Linked DNA regions of Homo sapiens: region 2 is linked to region 1. Evidence: fine-mapped expression QTL. Tissue or cell type: whole blood. Region 1 holds a variant in brackets; the other region holds the start of a gene. All regions are shown on one strand. Distances are from middle to middle.

Region 1 (8,176 bases):
ACAACTGGTACCCAGGCCTTTGGAAGCCCAAGCCCTCCCTTTTTCCCAAAGGGGGAGGGGTGGGCTGCACCCCCCGTTGCCTTTTCACCCAAACCCAGCTGGGTGGGACCGAGCCCTTGGGCTCTCAGGAGCTCCCTGGCTGTGGGCTGGGGAGATCAGTGCTCCCCAGGCCCTCCTCTGGCCCTGGCCCTTTCCAGAGGACAATAGCCTTCATGCAAGGGAAAATTCCATCGCCCAGGGTTCAAGTCTCCAAGGAGTTGCTGGGGCCTCTATTTAGCCTGGAGTGGGCTCTGAGGAGCCGCTGCAGCTGCCCGGCTTGTTTTCCCCCTCGCTGTGTTTTATTTTTAACCCCTGAGCTGCCAAGGATTGTTTTTCCCCAACCAGTGCCTGGGAACTAAGGGAGGGAAGAAATAAGGCTTTGTTCCCTTTGGGGAACTAATTGGGAAAGACAGGCAGTGTGGCCAGCTTGGCTCTATTAGGGTGTGGGGCTCCCACCCCTCACTGCACAACATCTTCACCCCAATCCATACCCAGGAGGCTGGGAGTGCAGAAGTGCCCCCCAGGATGCAACCAGAGGCCCGGGGGCTGGTGGGAACGCAAGTGCAGCTTCAAGACTGCAAAGGCAGCTCAGAGCCACTTTCTTGGGCTCCGAAGATATTCAGGAAATAAGATGTTGGGAGCTGGAAATGTCTATTTTTCCCATTTCAACCCCCCCCAAACTAACCCCTGCTTTTCTCCTGCTGGTGGTGGTGGTTGTTGTTTTCCAGACCTGCATAATGAACTCTAGAAGAAAAGTGAGGGAACTCAAAAAAGTAAGAAACCAGAAAATAAAGACATTATACTTTTAAACACTAGGCTAATCAATGGGAAACACCCAGCAACCCCACTTATAAGTTTACTCCGTAAAAAATATTCCTTATACTCAGAAATTTAATTTCATTGCAAATCAGCTAGGAATTAATGAAAAATTTCTTCCACGGCCATTTTATTTTAAGATCAAATGGATTCCAGATAGGGACCCATTAAGAATCTAAGGACCATTTTGATCCCGTCTAGGAACAGAGCAAATTTCTAAGGAATCACCCACTTGCAGCAAGCCAGCACATTCAAGTTAGGGCTGTGGCATATGACACCCAGTGCGTTCAAGTAAAGACTGCTCGTCTATTTACCAAGAATATTTGAGAAAAGAAAATGCCCCTGCCTGGTGGACAATAGCACAAAGCATTTCTCTGTACCTGGGCACATTTGTTCCACTCGATAAAAGAGGACCCCTGACCCAGGTACACAGGCAGTTGGAGAAGAGGACAACGATGAACTGATACAAAGGTAAGAGGTTCCCGGTAGCATTGGAAGAACACAGATTGGTGCATAATGCATGGCATGTGCAATAAAAGTAAGTTGCATTAAAACTTCAGCCTTGTTAATGACTACAAAAAAAATTGTTAGAAAGAATGAATAAGATCTTGGCCAGGCACAGTGGCTCACGCCTGTAATCCCAGCATTTTGGGGGGCCGAGGCAGGCGGATCACCTGAGGTCAGGAGTTTGAGACCAGCCTGGCCAACATGGTGAAACCCCATCTCTACTAAATATACAAAAAAATTAGCCAGGCATGATGGTGCACGCCTGTAATTCCAGCTACTTGGGAGGCTGAGGCAGGAGAATCTCCTGAACCCGGGAGGCGGAGGTTGCAGTGAGCCAAGATCAAACCACTGCACTCCAGCCTGGGAGACAAGAGCGAAAAGAATGAATAAGATCTGATATTTGATAGCACAACAAGGTGACTATAGTCAATAATGATTGAATTGTACATTTAAAAATAACGAAAAGAGTATAATTGGATTGTCTGTAACACAAAGGATAAAAGCTTTAAGTGATGGATACCCCATTTACCCTGATGCAATTACTACACATTGTATGCGTGTATCAAAATATCTCTCATGCCCCATAAATACACACACCTACTATGTCCCGACAAAAATTTAAAATTTTTTTTAATTTTTAAAAATTTGTTGAAAAACCATCAGCCCTGTTAAGTTGCTCACACGTGCTGTTGCAGCCCCAGCTCACCCGGTAGTAAATCCTGCTGACACAGGGTCCCCCACAGCTATGGGTCTATCCTTCCTCTGGTGTGGCAAGACTACATTTTCAGGAAGCTGCTGGGCAGAATGAAGCAACTCAAAGCTCAGGAGAAGTGTCTACGTGCCTTTTAGGGTTGGGGTTTAACCCAGCACTCAGGGATTTCCCAGCATGCAGACAAAGGCACTGACAGTTACAGCAGAAGCTGGAAGGGTGAGTCAAGCCAGGACTCAGCACGCTTGAACCCATCCACAGCTCCCACTCACATCATCCCACACTCCCTTTTCACATTTACTCCAAGCATCTGGAGCCCCAAGCTCCTGTGCCTCAACCCATGCCCTCAGTAACAGTATCCATTGCCAAGCCAGAATTGACTCCGGGCCCACCTTGCCACTCACTCAGAGTCTGTGAGGAGTGGGCACCGCACGCAGCCGTGAAACAGGCCAACTCACAGGTGGGCTCCCCACTGCACGTCTTGTCCGAAAAGACACCCCTCAGCCCCATCAGTGTTGACTTTGCATTGCGCCATTAGATTATTTCTTTCAGCTCTTCTTAAGACAAATGGCTGGCTGTTGGGAGGCTGGCCAGGGTTAAGGTGGAGCCTCAATGTGGCCATTTTCACAGCCCCGGCAAAGCCTGTGGTTGATGCCAAACCCCCATTGAACTGAATAGAATGGAGGAAAGCTAACCAACCCACCAGAATAATAATCACTAATGCTATGGAGTGATCACACAGCAAGACTGTTCTAAGTGTTTTATGTGTATTCATTTATTTTTACCTCATCATAAGTACTATTATTTTTCTATTTTATAGATGAGAAAACTGAAACAAGGTCACAAACCAGATGATCTAAAGGGTAGCCACTACTGCCTCCTAAAGAACCCCAATCAGGAATCCCAGATTAATTTGCCCAGCATCCTGTTTGGAAACCACATGTCCACCCTGCAACTGTACCTGGCTTGTGTCCCACAAGGAGGAAGATGCAGGGGACTCCGGAAGCTAAGGAGGTAGACATGGGGTTTACTTGGGTTAATGTGGCCGGGGAGTCAGGAGACCTTGATTCCCATTCTGGCTCTGCCCCTATCCGCATGAGGATGGCCAACTGTTCCAACCATGGGTTCCACTCTCCTCATTGCTCAGCCACCAGGTTTCCAGGTCCCTCAGGCCCCTGCACATCCTCAGATATCTGAAGAACAGTGATCGGTGTGACGACAGGGCCCCTTCACAGAACGAACTTGACAAAGAACCACTCACCGCACACACGAGCCTTAGAATGCACGTGTCAGTGTTTTGGGAAATATGTGCTGTTTTGAAATGTGTCTGGGCCATGAGCAAGTTTG[G/T]GGGGAGACAGGATAGGAGCTTTTCTTCCAGTTAATGAAGTGAGGCTTCATGGAGGAAGAAGATTTTCTTAGTCACATTTCCTGTTTCACACTGACCTTTTAAAAGGAAACCCACAAGTGAACCTGTGCTAGGGCCTGCTTGCAAAATCTACCCACAGGTATAATAAAGATGATCTAAATAAAGCCCACAGTAGGCCAAGCTTAACCTGAATCAGTGGAAATAATAAGATCACTAAGAAGGGCTGATGGCCTGAGATAAGAGACATGGTGGTGCTCCGTATACTGTAAATAGAAGTGACACGTGAGAGATTTAATGATTATTAAACAGGAATCTAAGCAGAGAGGCAGAGATAAACCATGCAATCTTTTCATCAGTCTCTAGGTACTCAGGGCTTAGCCACTCATTATAAAATGGAGACTCTAAAAAATTAGGAGAGATGGATGCAGTGATTTCAAAAGAAGTTGTGTTGATTGGGTTATAAAATTAATTATGGGAATTAAGATTACTTATCTGCAGAGGAAAAGACCAAGAGATAACTGAAGAACTTAAAGTTGGTAAGGGGCCGGGCTCGGTGGCTCATGCCTATAATCCCAACACCTCAGGAGCCTGAGACGAGAGGACTGCTTGAGCCCAGTTGTTCAAGGCTAGCCTGGGCAACACAGTGACACCCCGCATTTACAAAAATATTTTTTTTGTCCTCAGATTTGGTAGTGTGTGTTTCTAGTCCCAGCTACTAGGGTGGCTAAGACAGGAGGACCGCTTGAGCCTGGGAGGTTGAGGCTGCAATGTGCTGTGATCACACCACTGCACTCCAGTCTGGGTGACGGAGCAAAAGTCCATCTCAGAAAAAAACCAAAAAGTTGGTAAGGAATCAATTATTGGATGACACATTGCCATATCTACTGAGCACAGAATGACAGGCCCAAACAACAGCAGACAGATATGGGATGCTCAAGGATGTCCCAGAGATGGCCAGGTATGGTGGCTCACGCCTGTAATCCCAGCACTTTGGGAGGCCAAGGCAGGCAGATCACTTGAGGTCAGGAGTTCGAGATCAGCCTGGCCAACATGGTGAAATCCTGTCTCTACTAAAAATACAAAAACTAGCTGGGTATGGTGGCGCATGCCTGTAGTCCTAGCTACTCTGGAGGCTGAAGCAGGAGAATCACTTGAACCCGGGAGGCAGAGGTTCCAGTGAGCTGAGATCACACCACTGCACTCCATCCTGGGCAACTGAGCGAGACTCCAACTCAAAAAAAAAAAGAAAAAAAAAAGAATGTCCCAGAGATACCTGCAGAACGGTTGCTAAGGCCACCCAAGTCCAGGGGAGCTTCACCATCAGGCAGCACCCATCGCCATGGCTGTTTACATTAACTCAGGGAAGACGCCACAGAAATGTTAAGTTTTGAAAGCTTTGTTTTGTTTTGTTTTATTACTTTTTCATTTTAAAAAATATGGAATGCTTCACAAATTTGCGTGTCATCCTTGCTCAGGGGCCATGCTAATCTTCTCTGTACTGTTCCAATTTTAGTACATGCACTGCCAAAGCGAGCACTGTTTTGTTTTGTTTTAAACAAGGAGGCCTGGAATTGGGCTGAAGTTAAAAAAAAAATCATACAAAGGAAACGGTAATTATGTTAACAAAAATAGAGTGGGGAATAGGGTTAGGCCATGACAGGCAATGATCCTAAGAGCTAGAGATCTCTCCCACCCCAACAGAGAGAGACAGAGAGACAGACAGAGAGAGAGAGAGGGAGACAGAGACAGAGAGAGAGACACACACAGAGAGAGAGAGACACACACGCACACACACAGAGAGAGAGAGACACACACACACACACACACAGAGAGACACAGAGAGAGAGAGAGACAGAGACAGAGACAGAGAGAGAGAACCCTAAGGTATTAATATTCCTGACTTGAATACCTCAGGCTTTTCCCAGCCAACTTCCACGTTGCTCTCCTATCCGTCTCCACACCTAATTCTTCTACCAAACCCTTCTGTCCACCCCAGGAGATTGTGAACTCAGGCACCAAATCCAACAAGCTCCCCGAGGAACTTACAACAGTCTGTTTTACAGAGAAGTAAATGTTGCTGAGAGAGAAAATTGTCAGGCCTCGGTGTTCCAGAGCAAGAGGCATTCCTTCATTCCCAGAGAGGCCCTGGGCCTCAGCAAGCAAGCCCGACAAGCCCTCCGCAGCCAGAATCCAAGCTTCAGGCTGCACCTCCCTCACCGCTGGGCCCTGGACAGTGAGGCTGCTGCTCAGAACCCCTCTCCTCAGAGGGAAATTCCTCAGGGCTGCCCCACCCGACCCGTTCTATCAGTCACTCAAGCCCTCTATCCTCTGTCACAGCCTGGCTCTGTCCCTTCCCATGCCCCAACCCCCAACCTCCCAGGACCCAGTATCTCAGGATTTCTGCCCTCCTCCAGCCCCGAGCAGCCTGGAAGCCAAGTGGCAAGGATGTAGTCAGCCGGGTGGGCCCTGAGAGCCGGTGGAATGGTGTCCATGTTGCAGGAAACAAGGGAAGGTGAGGGGTACAGGGGTGCCTGTGCCAGGCCACCACTCCACAGCTCATTCTTCTCTGAGGTTATTCCCCGACCCATACCCCTCTGGAGCCCACCCCAGCTGCTTCCTCTTCCTAGGGGTCTCCACCTGATGTTCTGTGACTCCCCTGAAAATAAACTTTTGAAAGGCAGACTGTGTGGTTATTGTGAACATGGGTGTAAGGTCAAGAGGCAACCCCATAGCCAGATTTCATCCTCCTCCAGGCCTCCATCCAGGGCTGCAGAAATAGCTAGCAATTGGCTGGCTAAGCAGGCAGTGGCTTATATGGAAAGAGGGGCCCCTCTGCAGCTGTCACCTGTGCTTGTGAATTTGTTTTTCCAGCGTCAGGAAGGAAAGGTGATTTGGGAGACACCAAGCAAAGAGCAGGAGGACCTTTTCTGTCCCCTGAAATTTAGGAGGGAGATTACCAGACAGAGGCTGAGCCTTCCAGCTCCACTGGGGCCTGATGCCCTCTCTCACCTCTGACTGCCACCCTGGGAGGCTCTTTAAGCCTCTGTGCACGGCTCCCCTGCCCAGAGGGGAGGGCGCATGCGTGTCATGAACACCCAGGTGCTGGAGTCCACAGGACAGGTAGAAGAGAAACGACTGTGGCCACTCAGCAACCGCTTATGCCAGATACCCTTTTAATAAAATCACCTTCATCCAATCCTCACAGTCATCTCCTGAAATAGGTACTATTCCCATTTTGTAGACAAGGAAACTGAGACTCCAAGAGGTGAAAGTGCTTATGCAGATCATACTTATTAGGGACGGAGGCAGGACACAGTCCCACAAACACAGGGGGCAGCTGCCAAGGGGCCTCTTTTTCCATATAAGCCACCGCCTTCTTACCCAGCCAATCTCTAGCTATTTCTGCAGCCCCAGGATTGAGGTCTGAAGAAGGATTGAGTCTACTATGGTGTCACTTTCTGGCAAACTCTGAGAGGGACTGAGAAGGCCAAGTGGGGGCCTGCACCAGGCACCCCCAGCACCCAGGGCGCCCCTCCTCCCACTGAGCCACTCAGAGGCCGGGTCCTGGCAGGGTCCTCTCGCTTCACAGACCCTGCACTCCAGGCCAGACCCTGCATAAAAAGAGGTGTCCACAGTGCTCATATCCCACCAGGCTCAGACGTGGTAGCCCCAGGAAGTCACATCCATCTGGGATCTTCCCACCCCAGCCTTTTCAGGAATTTATTGTTATGGGGACATACAACAATATTAACCATGAGCACTGCTAGGGTCACTGTTCACAAGCAGGCAGGAGGACCCCCAGTGCAAGGTCTTTCTGTGGGGCCACCTGGCATGCTGCATGCCCAGCACTGTAGGTGGACTGGATGGTGGGGAAGGCCCCGTTGGAACCTCAACAGAATGAACTTCTGGGAAACTCAGCCACTCTGGTCCTGGTGTTCTTGGGTTGTATGTTTCAAAGCTGTCTTGACTTAACTAGTTCTGTCTCATTTTAGGATCTTCCAAAAGAATTCATGAACCAAGGTGCTAAAGAGCCAGATCCATTCGGCTCCTGAGCTCTGGAGGGATAGGATGCAGGGTAAATGGACCGAGGGTCCCAGCACCTTTTACCAGCTTTCCTAGCCTGGCCCTTGAGACCCTGTTTGACAGGTTCCTGTCCACTGACCAGCCCATCTCAAGTCACCCTGCTTCTCCCTCTGTGCCCCACCTTCAGTGCCTCCAATCCCTCTGTACCCTACCTTCAGCGCCTCCAATCCCTCTGTGCCCTACCTTCAGTGCTTCCAATCCCTCTGTGCCCTGCCTTCAGCGCCTCCAATCCCTCTGTGCCCTACCTTCAGTGCCTCCAAGCTCCATCTCAACCACCCTGTGCCCTCTTGCCTGGGGATCAACCCCTCCTTTCTCCAGAGAACCCCTACTTCACCTAGCACGTTTCCATGTGAATTTCAAAGGCTAAGTGCAAGGATTAGGTTCCTCTGAACTGGTTGAGATCTTTCAGGCTTCCTGTCCATCCCCCAGTGTCATGCCTATTTATCTCAATTTATGACACCCACACTTTCCCAATAATCCTGTTGCCTTTCTTGGTGCTTTTGTTGCTCCCTATAAATTGTCATTAAAGAGGTTGGATAGGAATGAGCCTGCAGCCCACTACTAGAGACTTCTCTCCTGGTCAACATCTACATGCTAATGACAGAAGGATTAGGTGGTTTTCTAATTATTGATTACTATGGAACAAATGACTTCAA
Region 2 (8,176 bases), 57 kb after region 1:
TGAAGTTTAAAACCCAGGGAAGAAAGCATGGCGTGAGTGCTCTAAGGATAGACCTACGGTATTCTAGAGCAAAAACCATTAAAGCTACTTCTACAGGAAATCGTTTTACACAGATATTGTATGTGGAATGAATACCATTAACTGCTCACCCCTTACTTTTTTTTTTTTAGCTTTTCTCTCATTTTTTTTTTGTTGTTATTTTTTTTAAAAAGATGTCACATATGAACTGGGGAACTTTAGCACCAAAATCAAGTCTCTCCTAGTCCATCTAGCTTCCCCTTCCTCCCCACTTAAAAAAAAGAAAAAATTAAATCACAAAGTCCCACTTAAGTCAAAATCTTCGTCCGCTTTTTCAGCCTTCCTTCCTGCAGACCTACACAAACCCAGGCAAGATTAGTCAACAGGGGTTCAGATCGGGAAGAAAAAGGTTTTGAATGTCAAGACAGGTTTCCCCCAAAACCCTGGTCTGGCAACAACTCTTCCAAGGGGCAGGGGTGGGGGGGGTGGGGGGGCGGGTACAGGTGGAGAGGTGCCACCGGGAAGAGGGGAGGAGGAATAAGTGTGCGGGAGACTGAAATGAGGGAAGGTGCAGTTGTGTCGCCAGTGGAGGGGGCTGCTGGTTCCGGGTCTCCACCCCGCCATGGGCAGAGGCTCCGGGAGGCCCACGGGTGCCCTCTGGCGCTGAAGAGGTAATGTAGTCACAGTGACAAAGTTAGATTACAAGGCACTAAGTTGCTTCTGTAAACTGTTACTGCTTTTTCTCTTGTGATTTGGCACTTAAGGCTTAAGCCGGAAAAAAAAAGGCATCTACTGACAAAATATGGGACTTGTCTGTTATGCATGGTAAGTGGGCTATAAAATCCAGGGAGGGGGTTTCAAGCCAGAAGAAGCTACTGACAAATTGACTTGTCCTTATGTTAGGTGGGGTTATGAGGGGGAGAGGGAGGGCACATTCTGAGGTGCTGGGGGAAAGGGGTTGAGCTTAACCTTGTTAATGTAGGGCCTGTGGGGAATGGGATGGGTAGGGAGAAGAGGGTATGGGATGTGGGTGCAGGGTAGGGGCTGGAGTAGGCAGGAGGTCCCTCCCTACCCTGGCTTAGTCATCTGAGATGGAAAGTCTGCTGAAGATGGGCAGGCGTCTTGAGTTGTCCAAGGTCGGGGAGTCTGAGCCACTGTGGCTGCTGCTGGAGCTGCTCAGGTAGCCCTCCTGGTCCGAGAGAGAATCCTGAGGGCTGGGGGGAGAGTCAAACATGTGAGGGGACTCGGACATGGGCCGGAAGAGGAAGGTGGTCGGGGAGCCACCCCCGGGCAGCCCCATGCTAGGGGCAAAGAGGCTTGCCAGCTCCTGGCTGGAGAAGGCAAAAGGGTTATTGGTGCCATCGGGCAGGGTAGGTGAGCCCAGGAGGTCATCGGCGCTCAGAATAGGGGGTGGGGTGATGGACGTGGGGCTGTCCAGCAGCCCGGTGGCAGCGGCGGTGGCAGCGGCACTGGGAAACCCAGCAAAGCTAAAGCTATGCTGGAGGCGGGGACGGTCAGCGGAGAGGTCCCGGGCCCCGGCCAGGGCACGGCGCTCTTCAGCGTTGTGGATGAAGTGGCAGCGGGGCCCGTAGGGGCAAAAGCCGATGGTGTGGAAGGTGCGGCACAGCTCCGTCTTGTACTTGGGGTGGCGGGTCAGGCTGCGGAGCTCGTGGATGCCGTGTGCGAACTGGCACTTGTCCCCGTACTTACAGGCACCGTTTTCCTCAAAGGGGCGGCACAGCTCCGTCTTGTAGCGGCTGGAGTTGACCTGGCCGCCCCCGGGCTGCTTCTGGGTGGGCAGCAGCCGCTCGCCCCCTTCCGAGAAGGAGCGGTCTCGGAAGCGGCTGTCTCGCGAGCTCAGAGCGGGGGCTGGCTCACCCTTGAGGCTGCTGAGGAGCTGGTTCTGGTGGAACTTGGAGCTGGGCAGGGTGACTGAGTGCCTCCGAGGGAAGCCCCCACCAGCAGGGGTGCCCACTGCCTTTCTGTCCAGCAGGCAACCCCCTGCACTGGGAGCACTATAGTTGAGCATCTTGTTACCCTGGAGAGAGAAGAGAAAGGATGGTAAGGACAGAGGACATCCACCAGGATGTCCACTATGGGCAGCCCCCTACACAATCACAAACGCCCGCTCTTTCTCAAAGAACTCATCTCTACCTCGGCTCTAGCAAGCTCCCTTCCCTCTCTCCCTCCCATAGGCCATTCACCTGGGTTTATTTTGGCCCCATGCGTAAGAAACCACAAGATCCAAACTGTGTGACAAGCACCCTGCTCCATGCTGACTCCTGCAATGCAACCCCCATGTCCTCTGTCCCCAAAGCTACCACTTTAAAGTTCAACTTTTTTACTAGTCAAATAGATTCTTCAACTCAAAATATCTCACACAACCCAGACCTCTCTAGATTACCGCACCCCGCCCCCGCCACCGCCCGCGACAAAAACAGGTAAACCTCAGAAAGGAGTCTATCATAGGCTACGTTAGGTCCCCTTCCAATCAGTCTCTGCTTAATTGATACCCCCTCCTTCAAGACCTGGCCTAAGACTCTCAACTTCCTCCTTCAGAAGTGTTCCCTTCCTTTGGCAACAGGTTTTCAGACTGCCTTTGCTTTTTCTTGTGGGGAGGAGATTGGGGGCCTGGTCTGAGGTTGGGGGAGACAGGGATGTGATTCCTGAAAATAAAACTCTTTGCCCTAAGTTCCCGGAAGAGATATTTTCTACAATAATCTCTCTCACCATTTCCACTCAGCCCTAGCCCACCCCGCCCCCTTCACTGAGAAGATGCCTTTGCAATTAGTCTTTTGGCTGCAAGAGCAAGCTTGGATAAGAGCTCCAGTGTTTAATCTTTAACGCAAAGCTGCAGATGGAAAGGAAAAGGAAAGCACCAACCCCCCTACCCACCTCCTAGTCAATAGCGGATTGGGGGTGGTGGGGATGGGGGCAGAGCCACCAATGGCAGGTTTCTGTTCCAATAGGACCCTGGTCACCTGCCCAAATTGTACCCAAGATTTGGAAATGGTGCAGGTCAGGGACCTAGGAGTTAGTTCCCAGCCCATGTGGGTGTCATTGTGCAAATTCTAATGTTGGTCCCTTAGGATCAGCAGGGGGGGACCGGGAATCTGTAACTGCAACCACCCCACCGAGAGGATTACAGGAACCCAGTCGAGAGCTGGTTCCCAACAATGAGGTTCATTTAAAAAGTCGTGAGGGGGGAGGGGGGCCAAAGAAAGAAATAGATCAAAGAGCGGGAGAGTCGAGAAAAGAAGGAAGAAATGTTGGGGAGCGCTGGCAGCCGGGCTGGCAAGTGGAGTTTGGGAATGTGCAGGGAGGGAAGGAAGCTGAAAAATTCAAACTTTTTAAATGCTACTCTTCAGCTCCTCGGCGTCCCTGCACCCCAACCCTGCAGCCCTGGGGCGTTGGCAGCTGCACCAACAGGAGCAGCAAGCTGGGAAAACAGAGCAACATGACCCGACGTGTTAAGAGAAGGCAAAACACTTCAGCAATTAAAAAGTAGCCCAGCAGCTTCACCCTTTCAAATTGGGAGGGGGAGGTTGGAAAGAAATTTAACAACATCCATAGACTTTTGCTATGTACATTTAAACCGCAGTCCTGGAACATTCCGAGTTTAAAACTTGCTTTTTCAACACTGGCTGACAAGCAACATGTTTTAAGGAGCCCCCCATTAAATCCTTACTCGCGGGACTCTCGAGTTCAAGCCAGCATTTTGTCGCCACCTCCCCCCCCAACCCCGCCCGCAATCGATGAGCCGCAATGCCTCGGCAACACAGGTAAGCGGGTCAACCTGAATGCCTCTTTCACCCCAAAGTTTGCTGCACGATCGGCTATCGCGGGAAGAAGCCCAACGGAGCTAGGGCGGACTCAAGCCCCACTGCAAACTTGTTCTGCAACATCTTTTTGAATCACAACTTGGCCTTTCTTCCTCGCATATCCCCAGCTCCCCCCAAAGAGTGGAGGAAAACATTGTCCCGAGACTCACTTCCCCGAGGGACCTCCCACTCCCAACCCCACGGGTGGGTAATGCCGCTGGACAGACCTAGGGCGCAGACTGGGAACCCGATCAGACCAGCAAACCTGGGATCCAGCAGCACGTTACGTAAAACAGGATCGCCCAAAACTTGTCCCAATCCCAGCCCTCCCCCCGAAGCCCCCGGGCTGCCCTGCCAGGCAAACTTCGCCCCTCAAAACCCTGGCCTCCAGATTCACATGTAATCCCCGCCAGCAACTGTTGAAACTCAAAGGGTGGGAAGGACGGGGCCAAATTCCTTCAAACTTGGGAGAAATGCCGGAGGAGAAAAGAATCATCTCGCTGCACCACTTTCCCCATTGCCTTCCAAGACCCAAACTTTTGGGGGTTCTTTCTTAAGGCAAAAGAAAAAGACTTTTTGAAAAGCAAATGCTCCGCCCCCCTTTACCTTGCATAAAACTTCGCTCAAGTCGAAGATGGTGGCAGACACGAGGGTGGTGGTCATCCTGTGCGTTCGCGCGAGCCAGGGGCGAGGATCTGGTGTGTCGCGAAGGTCCCGGTGCGGGGAAGGCGCAGCCTCTCCTGTCTGGAGTCCCACACGCCAGTTCCCGGCGCCCCTCGCCTTTCTGACTCCGGGCTGGGGCGCGCAAAGCCCAATTTATAAAGTTCAGATTTGGTGGGCCGGGGGGAGGAGGAGCTTTAAACTTATTTAAATGAGGAAGAGGAGGAAAAAGAAGTTGATTGACACTGGAGTTGAATCAGCCATGCGGTCAGGCGGGGAGGGGGGGCAGGGGGAGGAGAAGAAACTTTCAAAAGGAAGAAGGGGGAGGGGAGACGAGAAAAGAAGGCGGAAAAAAAAAACCCCACTGTGAGCCGCGCACAACTTTTTTTTTTTTTTCTTTAAGAGGAAAAGTTTCAAGTCGGCTGACTTCCCTACCCGGCGCTTCAGGCGCCCCCTCTCCGGGGCCGCGCGGGCGCAGAGCGGGAGGGGCGCGCCCCCTCCTTTGTCAGCCTCAGAGCGCGGCTGTGACGTCACTCATTCCACTCCCTCCGGGGTTCTTGTTGTCATGTTGTTGTTTTTTGTTGGGCAGGAAGGCGGGCTCGACTTTCTCTTTTTGCCAGCGGGAGCTGAAGCCCGTCCTTAGCGCCCGGGCCGCGGTTTCCATCTTGAGCTGGCGGTCTCCTTGAAACTTCCCCAAGTGTCTGCACAACTTACCTTTTCCCGACTTCTCTTCGACACTCGGCTCCCTTCGGCAAACCGGGCAGGCCGAGGACATTAGAAATTTGGGACGCACAGAATGTTCAAGCCTAGGATTTTATGTTGCTGTTTTTTTTCCAGCGGGGCGTAGGGTGGGGCGCGCTGCTGGGGGGACTAGGGAAACTTTTTCCCCAGGAGGACATGGTCTGGCGGGGGCGAGCGCGGCACAATTTAGTGCGCCGCACGCGTCGACACTCGCGCTCGCTTTGCAGCCGGCGCTCTCCGGGTGTGGGCGGGTGGGGGGCGCCGCAAAAAAAGACCACAACCCGGGACGATTGTTTGTTTTACCAGGCCTAGGCGTGCCGTTTCTTTTCACGCATCCAATCTTTAAACTTTTTAGTCAAGAAAACCCTAATCCTTCCTGAATGCCCCTTCCTCCCAGAAAAAGCCCACCGAGCAACTCACTACTTTCCACGCGCGCTCCGAATTCTGGGCGGCGCCACAACCCTCCCTCCTCCTCCATCCTCCCCACACACACCTCAAGACTCTAGAACAATGAAAAAAGGTTACTTTGGTAAGAATGAAGGTAAAGAGGTGGAGGGAGGCGGCACTTTTAACTTATTGTTGCTTCTCTCTCGCCCCCACCGGAGTGGAACATATGGCTTGTCACGCTGCGCCGTTTTGGCGGGAGGTGGAGAGGGGGACATGGGAGCCACGAAACCGAAGGGCCCGCAATGGAGCATGACTCCCTTGAAAATGATAAAATATATACTGTTAGGTTTGGATGCCGCCCACCCAAATAAAAAGTTAACGAGTCCCCCACCCGCCCCCTGCGCCTTGGCCCGACTGCTGGCGTGATGACCCAGGCGGAAGTCGCAGGGCTGCGCTTCTTTCCGATTTCCACGCGGGCTCCGCCGCCCCCCTCGGCCCTCGCACGTTTCTTCCCAGCACTCGAGGCCGCCGAGTCTGTTATGAAACCCGGTGCTGCGGAGTGGCTAAGATTGAGTTCCATTGCGATGTAATTAGGTCACCCCATTATGAGCACGTTTCTTTGGAAAGGACGGGGCGGGCCGAAGAGAGCGCATTCTCACCACCCCCAACACACACTTTTTTTTAAAACTGCATTTCTTATTTATTCGTAAACATCTGGGCAAACCCAGCGAAACCTTCCAAATCACAATTGTTTGAGAAACCGGCTGTTTTTCAACTTTGTGAAACCCAACTTTTGCTGCAGCCACGAACCTACGTGATCCCAGCGGGGTCGGCTTTCATTTGTCTCCTCTGCCCGAAATGGATGGCCCCCACTTTAACTCGGCTGCTGCCCCTCGCTTGTTCTGCTGCTGCCCTCCAGCCGTCTGTTGCTTCCCTCCCCCGCTCCCATTTTTCAGCTTTTCTTGAAATCTGGCAAGCGCCAGAAAGGGAAATAACTTCCATCCACCTTAATTTAAATCATTCAAGTGTAGGTTTCTTTCTTAGAGGGATGTTTGCTCGTTCCTTTCCCAAGTGGGTGTTGGGGCGGTGGGGGAGAGATTTCGTGCAGTTTCTTGGTGATGAGGTAATGAGTTCCAGATTTCAGGACAGAGCAGAGTGCGCGTTGAAACCACAAGGTTAGTCTGAGTTCTGATGTGAAGCTATTTCGGTTTTTTATTCCCCCGGCCTCCACCCATTCCCGCTCCCCCACCCCCCACCCCCCCCAAAAAAGAGGCCGGCTGGTCTTTAACTCCCGAGGGTTCGCGAAGCTCAGCTGGGGGGACCGGAGGAGGGGCTGGAAAAAAGCAAAGGGGAAGGGGACTGGGAGCGGGCGGGGCCCCCTTCCCGGCCCAGGGCCTGTCCCCGCGGGGCACCGGCTATGCCCCTGCTTCGGGCGGCGCCGCTTTCCCTCCAAGGCTGCGGGACCGGCCAGGAGCACCATCAGGCGCCCCAGAATGGCTACAAAGTGGATTTTTCCAAAGAAAGCTGATTCCTCGAATTTCCTCGGCTTTTCCAACTCCCGGAGGCCCTCCCCTCCCCCTCTCCCCGGGGGCGCGGGCTCCGCAAGGCTGCGACTGGCCTAGCCCGCTCGCTCCCGAGTTGTTTACCGGCCCCGCCGACCAAGGGTTTGTTCCAGCTCCCAGAGCCTGTCTCTATAATTAAACTCTTTTTTAAATTGTCGGGTTGAAACGTCATTTCGGGGACTTTCCAAGGGTGAGGGAGCCGAGAGGAGGGAGCGAGTCCCTTAACCCTTCGCTGACCCGGCGTCCCCGCCGCGGTGAGGGCCCGAGGGCGGGAGCCGACCCGCCCTCGCCCAGACGTGGTCGACAGGTGCCCAGGGGTGGCGGGAGGGCGGCCCTACGGTGCAGGAAGGCCGAGGCGAGGCGTGCGTGGCCGTCCCCCGCCAACTTCGCGGTGCATTCCGCCCTCCCGCTCCTTACCCGCGCAGTCCCCAGGCTGGCCGCCGCCTCACCTGCACTGCCGCTTCCGACCGGGAGGCGGTGGGCCGGCTCCTCTGTCCCAGGCCCGACTTCCGGGCCCTCCCCATTCGCCTGGAGCGCGTCCCTTCGTGGGGAGGGGCGGCCCAGGTATTTTAGCTTGGAGGTGGTGGTGGGGTGGGATGTTCGGTTTTGTGCAAGGGGGAAAGTGAAAGTCTTCGGAGTGAAGGAGGCGCTGCGGGTGTACGTATTCATCGGCCAATCTGGACCCCAGGCGCACCTCAAGGCAGATGACAGTGTGCAGCACTGGGCCGCAGGACCCCAGAAGGTTAGGCCTAGTCACAGGCGTCAGCAGGGTACCCCCTCCTGAGAGCCCTGCAGTGTTGCACTTCCTCTCAGGCTTCAGGTCATTTGCAAAATCCCCCAAATTCTTCAGGTTGAAAGAGAGAGAGACACCTGGAGTCCCCTTGTTTAAAGTTTGGAATGCTGATTCCCTGGCCCAGATGGGGCCGGGGAATCTGCATTTTTGGTAAATTTCCATCTCACGACCCAAATACTAATGTTTGAGAATCA

The links. PIP is the estimated chance that this variant, and not a neighbour inherited with it, causes the effect.
Region 2: it holds the start of ZFP36L1, and the variant in region 1 is fine-mapped to the expression of ZFP36L1 in whole blood (TOPMed, PIP above 0.99).

The regions. Positions count from the first base shown.
Region 1 is chr14:68,731,055-68,739,230 of GRCh38, forward strand. LOC105370547 (a long non-coding RNA gene) reads left to right here. Exons shown (of 4, transcript XR_007064227.1): 2 at 1-1,326; 3 at 2,892-3,085; 4 at 5,434-6,117. It also overlaps the pseudogene RNU6-921P. Among named protein-coding and RNA genes, the nearest start is that of RAD51B-AS1, 50 kb to the left of the region's middle. RefSeq lists enhancers at 1-235, 5,241-5,767, 5,768-6,292. The variant G/T (reference allele first, on the strand shown) is at 3,419.
Region 2 is chr14:68,788,437-68,796,612 of GRCh38, forward strand. ZFP36L1 (ZFP36 ring finger protein like 1) reads right to left here and starts at 4,631. Exons shown (of 2, transcript NM_004926.4): 1 at 4,446-4,631; 2 at 1-2,056. The coding sequence starts at 4,502. The coding sequence ends at 1,097. RefSeq lists enhancers at 1,292-1,351, 1,362-1,441, 1,549-2,164, 6,252-6,796, 6,459-6,618 and 1 more and silencers at 4,789-4,858, 4,879-5,078, 7,359-7,678.